2 separate regions of the Homo sapiens genome follow, and region 1 is linked to region 2. Evidence: fine-mapped expression QTL. A gene starts in region 2. The other region holds a variant in brackets. All regions are shown on one strand. Distances are from middle to middle.

Region 1 (2,899 bases), 180 kb after region 2:
TTATTTTTTGTAGAGATGTTTTGCCATGTTACCCAGGCTGGTCTTGAATTCTTGGCCTCAAGTAATCTACTGGCCTTGACCTTCCACAGTGTTGGGATTACACTATGCCTAAAAACAGTTTTTTTTGTTTTGTTTTTTTTTTTTTTTTTTTTTTGGTAGAGACAGGGTTTCAGTATGTTGCCTAGGCTGATCCCGAACTTCTGGCTTCTACTTCTGCTTCCCAAAGTGCTGAGATTATAGGCATGAGCCACCGTGCTCGGCTCTCTCCTCTTTTATGCTAAAAATAATTCCAGCACCTACCTTGGTCTTACATTCTAGATATATGCCAGTTTTATTCATTACTTGTTTAACTCTTTTTTTTTTTTTTTTTTTGAGACGGAGTCTCGCTCTTTCACCCAGGCTGGACTGCAGTGGCGCGATCTCGGCTCACTGCAAGCTCCGCCTCCCGGGTTCATGCCATTCTCCTGCCTCAGCCTCCCAAGTATCTGGGACTACAGGTGCCTGCCACCACACCTGGCTAATTTTTTGTATTTTTAGTAGAGATGGGGTTTCACCGTGTTAGCCAGGGTGGTCTCGATCTCCTGGCCTTGTGATCCGCCTGCCTCGGCCTCCCAAAGTACTGGCATTACAGGCGTGAGCCACCGTGCCCGACCTTAACTTATTGTTTATCTGTTTGATTGAATCATTCCTTCAACACATAGTTTGAGCCTCAAATATGTACCAGGCAGAGTGAGTCTTGGGATACTGGGGATTTAATAAGAACAAAGTCTCTGCCCTGCAAGTGTTTATCTTCTTATAGTGGGAACAGATTTTAAGTGAAAACCTATTTGATCAATCAGGAAAGGGTTGTGAAGCAGGAGTCCAGGGTGTTTTAAGAGCATGTCACAGAGAGACCCTGGGGAATCAGGGGAGGCTTCCTGGAGAAGGAAGCTGCAGGATGGGAAGGGTAAGGAAGGGCTAGGGGATGGGGAGTGTCTTACTGATGGCAAAGAGTCAGCTGTGTTTGTAGGGATCATGCAGCCCATGAACATCATATTAATAATTTTGCTCGGCAGTCTAAGGGAGAAGGAAAGCAGCTATCTTTCTGATTCTCCTCTGGAATCGTTTCTTAGACTTGTTTTGTTTGGCTGTAGGGATGTTTTAAATATATTTTAATCTGCCTGCCTTTCTGCAGGAAGGCATCTATGAGAATAGCCACTCATGTTT[T/A]TCTTACCTCCTGACTCCTGGAGGCACCTGAGCTTGTGCCTCCTCACTGCTGGGCCAGCTGCATCTATCTGCCTTTCTGCCTGGCCCCTTGCTTAAGCATCTTTGCTCTGTCGCTCTCCAGGTGGCATTTCATCCACATGCTAGCCCAGTGCCCAGAAAGTGCAGTCCCGGTTCTAAGCAGGCCATTCTTCTCTTCCTCTTTGTCTGTCTACCTTTCTTCCAGACGCTTCTAGTCTTTCTCCCTTAATCCCTAATCTCTTCTTTTCCAGAGGGTGCCTGGGGATAATAGGTGTTCTGTCCCCATTTTTACACCTATAACCAGTTGAAAGTCTAATTTACATTTGTATTACCTTGCCTTGGCTAATCTGCTTCTTTTCTTTTCTTTTCTTTTTTTTTTGAGACAGAGTCTCGCTCTGTCGCCAGACTGGAGTGCAGTGGTGCGATCTCGGCTCACTGAAACCTCCGCCTCCCCGGTTCAAGCGATTCTCTTGCCTCAGCCTCCTGAGTAGCTGGGATTACAGACATGCGCCACCACACCCAGCTATTTTTTTGTATTTTTAGTAGAGACAGGGTTTCACCATGTTGGCCAGCATGGTCTTGATTTCCTGACCTCATGATCCACCCCTCCTCAGCCTCCCAAAGTGCTGGGATTACAGGCGTGAGTCACCGCACCTGGCTGGCTAATCTGCTTATTTTCACATCCATTTAGGATTTTATGGATGAGGTTGTCACTGTGCTAGCCACTGAGCCGGGCTCTGGGGATCCAAAATCAAACTAGATGCTGTCTGTGATCTCAGAACCTGCAGTTCTAATAGGGCCAGAGACACATATAAACCTATAAGTGTTACAGGTATTCGTGTGGAAATCTGGGGGCTCGAGGAAGGGAGTAGTCAGCTTGATCTGGGTATTAACCAAGTCTTTGCAGGGGGAGGGGGCGGCCTTGACTCAGGCATTCCAAGCCAAGGTTACAGCATGAGTAAAGACCAGGCAGGAGAGAAAAACAGCGGATGTGTTTGGCATTGGTTAAGGAAGAAAGAGGTGAGAGAGAGAGTCAGGGGCCTTGGGGCATTTTGAGGAGTCAGGTCTTTATCCTGTAGGCAGCGGGAATCCATGGGAAATTTCCAGGCGGTGGCGTGACATGATCAGAATATTGTGGCAAGGCTGCTTGTGCGGCAGAGCGAAGGCTTTAAGGCCGGTAAGCGTGGAGGCCGACAGACTAAATGAGAGGAGAAATAATGAGGTCAAACACCAATTCTACAGCAGTGGCTGGAGAGGAGGAGGTAGAATCTGTCAGACAGGATGTGGCTGTGGCAGGTCAGGGATTGGAAGTGCCTGGATTCCTCCGGGTTTTCTGCCTTGTGTGATGGGACCATACAGTGAGTATAGGGTATTCAAGGGAGGAACAGGTTAGGAAGAAAGAAAAATGAGTCCATGCTGAGTGTGTGGTTCCCTGGGGTGCGTTCTGGGAGAGATGGCTGGCATTTGGATGGCTACGGTGTGACTTAGAGGACTTCTGAGCTAGAGATGGGAACTTGGTGAGCCATGTGGGTACATGGCCTGGCCACTGTTGCGCAGTGACCAACCTGCCCAGCCACAGAGGGTGGCCCAGGATTTGTGTTTCATCAGCAGAGAGGTGAAGTGATGAGGATGTAGAAGATCACCCGGGGCCTTGCAGCACAGGTGTAAGGCAGCA
Region 2 (2,899 bases):
AGATCTTCAGGCTCTTGGAGCCCGGCCTGACTGGTTTTGTAATGGATATCTAGGCAGTCATAGTAAGAGGTGAAGCTAGAGGAGGCGTTGTGGAGGGCCTGAAATGTACAGGCAGAGAAGTTTGTACCAAATTTAAAAGGCAATAGGGAGCCACAGAAGGTGACTGGGGGAGGGGGGAAGGAGTAGACAGAGGTATACAGGCGTATTAAAGGGTCCAGCTTTTTTTTTTTTTGAGACGGAGTTTCACCCTTGTTACCCAGGCTGGAATGCAGTGGTATGATCTCCGCCCACTGCAACTTCCACCTCCCGGGTTCAAGCCATTCTCCTGCCTCAGCCTCCTGAGTAGCTGGGATTACAGGCACCCGCCACCACGCCCGGCTAATTTTTGTATTTTTAGTGGAGATGGGGTTTCACCTTGTTGGCCAGGCTGGTCTTGAACTCCTGACCTCAAGTGAGCCATTCGCCTCAGCCTCCCAAAGTGCTGGGATTACAGGCGTGAGCCACCGCGCCTGGCCGAGTCCAGCTATTTACAGGCTAAAAAATGTACTTTATTTTATTTCTTTAAAATTTTTTATGGAGTAGACTAGCAAAGAAACCAAGCTTTCTTTTACTTCTGTACGGTCAGTTCAAGGTCAACATTCTGCAGCACTCAGGTTCACTGGTCCCTGGAGAGCAGGGACTGGCCCAAATGATGTTTGTAGTACCTGGCACATCGCATGGAACATGGCAGCCTCCTGGTAATGTTTGTTGACTGACTACATGAGTGTAGACTCTTTAGCCAACCCATCTCGATTTCGGGAGGGCTGGTACCCTGGGCCGGCCTTCCCTCTGCAAGTAAAAGCATTGGTGCTGTTCCTCTCACCGTTCGCCTTTCCTCCATTTATCCCCATCGACTGTTTCCAATTCTATCAACTCCGACCCCGTCTTCTCTCCATTCCGTCCCTCCAGCGTGCCACGCTGCCACCAGGCTGCTGGGCTCAGGCGCCAGGCTTCAAACCTGTCTTTCACCCATTGTTCAGTTTCCGGTGAGACAAGTTCAACCCCAGGTTCAACCACTACAATGACAACCACAAACGATCCCTCGCAGACACCTCGAAGAAGCCGCCCGCACGCCACGGGCCGCCAGGCCTACAAAGCAGGCACAGAACAGAGGGGCGTTTCCATTCCCGCGGTCCCCGGCGGTGGGGGCGCGAGTGGGAGCCCCTCTCCCCAGTGACAGGCCCCTCTGCGAGGGAGCGCGCAGCCCTCCGCGGGCGTGGCCGCCCTGGCCCCGCCCCGGCCCGCCCCCTCGCCAGTGAGCTAACCCCCGCCCGGCCACCCGGCCGCCAGCTCCTCTCCACGGCCGCCCGCCGCGGAGTCCTGCCGCGGGGGATGCTCCGGGTCCCACCTCCCGGGGGAGCTGCGCATTTCCGCGCGCCAGGGCGGCCCCGGCCCCGGTCCCGGCCCCGGCCCCGGCCAGCCCTCGCGGCGGCAGCCCGCGTTCCGCGTTCCCGGGAAGTTGTCTCCGGAGCCCGCGGCGCCTGGGTCTCCTCCCCCTGAGCCCCGCCCCCCAGCCCAGAGCTAGGATCCGCGAGCTGCCCGGCCCGGGGGCGTCGCCGCTCGCTCTGCGAAGCCAACGAGTCTCTGCTTCCCGGCGCGGAGCGCGCGTCCCCCGCCTGCCTGAGGACCCCCGCGCACCCCAGAGACGGCGCGCGCCCAGAGCGCGGGAGCCCGGAGCGCCGGGCGCCTGGGACCCCGCGGAGCCGCTGCCCAGCCCGTGGGGCTCGGCGGGAATGCAGGCTGCGCTGTGAACCCGGGCGCCAAGGCCATGTCCGGCGCTCGCTGCCGGACCCTGTACCCCTTCTCCGGGGAGCGGCACGGCCAGGGGCTGCGCTTCGCCGCGGGCGAGCTGATCACGCTGCTGCAGGTCCCGGACGGCGGCTGGTGGGAAGGCGAGAAGGAGGACGGGCTCCGTGGCTGGTTCCCGGCGAGCTACGTGCAGTTGCTGGAGGTAAGGGGCGAGGGCCGGGGCTGTAGGAGCCGGGGCTGCGGTCCTCGGTGCGCTCGCGTACCTGTTGCCCGTTCCGGGGATGCCGCAGCGTCCCGGTCGGAGGGGCGCCCCGGGGGGCAGCCCTTGCCGGCGCTACCTGTAGCTCCACGCTCCTGGGGGGCAGCGACGGCAGCGGGCGCCCCTCGGGGCGTGGGCAACGCGGACTCGCGGGGAGCTTCCACCTTGCGCCGGGCCTCCGGAGCACACCGTGGCTGCTCTGAGGAAGCGAGAACTTGTTGCCTGTGTGAGTTAAGGAGCAGGCGGGAGCGTTCCCGGCAGTGGCAGGGGCCGGTGAAGGGTCTGGCGGTCTTGGGAAGAGGCACGGAGGATCAGGGGTGCGAGAAAGTGGCACCGACTCGGTCCCGCAGCCCCGCGTCTCCACCCCGGAGTCTAGAGCCTGATGACCCGTGGACGGTCGTGCTGCCTTGGGTCAGGCTGCCTGGCCGCCTCGGGACCACCCACTTGCTGGTCAGCCGAGCCTGCTGGCCACCAGCCCGAGCCCCCTCAGCAGGCTTGATCCTGGGGTGCCGTAGCACCCCCCGCCACTGCCTGCTCCCCTGGTCCAGCTCCCCGAGGCTAAGGCTCAGAACCCGAAAGTGGCTTGTTCCTGGGGTTCTGGCCTGGCCCCAGGGCTGCACAGGACCTGCTGAGGCAAGGCGGCTGGCTGTTTATTGTCTATGTGACAGGCTGTCCTCTAATCACTGAGCTCGCAGTCACAGCCTGAGTGAGACCCGAAGTTTCTAAAGTCCTTTGTGTGTGGGGGGGTGACCTTCCAGGACATCCCCTTTACTAGAAGCCCGCCTGCCCCCAGGATTCTTGTAAAGACTAAATTAACAGTTACCTTCAATGGTGTCAGTATTCCTAAACATT

What was found. PIP is the estimated chance that this variant, and not a neighbour inherited with it, causes the effect.
Region 1: its variant is fine-mapped to the expression of GAS7 in whole blood (TOPMed, PIP 0.92).

What each region holds. Positions count from the first base shown.
Region 1 is chr17:10,013,858-10,016,756 of GRCh38, reverse strand. The region is part of intron 2 of GAS7 (growth arrest specific 7); the gene reads left to right. Among named protein-coding and RNA genes, the nearest start is that of RCVRN, 110 kb to the right of the region's middle. The variant T/A (reference allele first, on the strand shown) is at 1,207.
Region 2 is chr17:10,197,299-10,200,197 of GRCh38, reverse strand. It overlaps GAS7 (growth arrest specific 7), which reads left to right and starts at 1,592. Exons shown (of 14, transcript NM_201433.2): 1 at 1,592-1,990. The coding sequence starts at 1,808.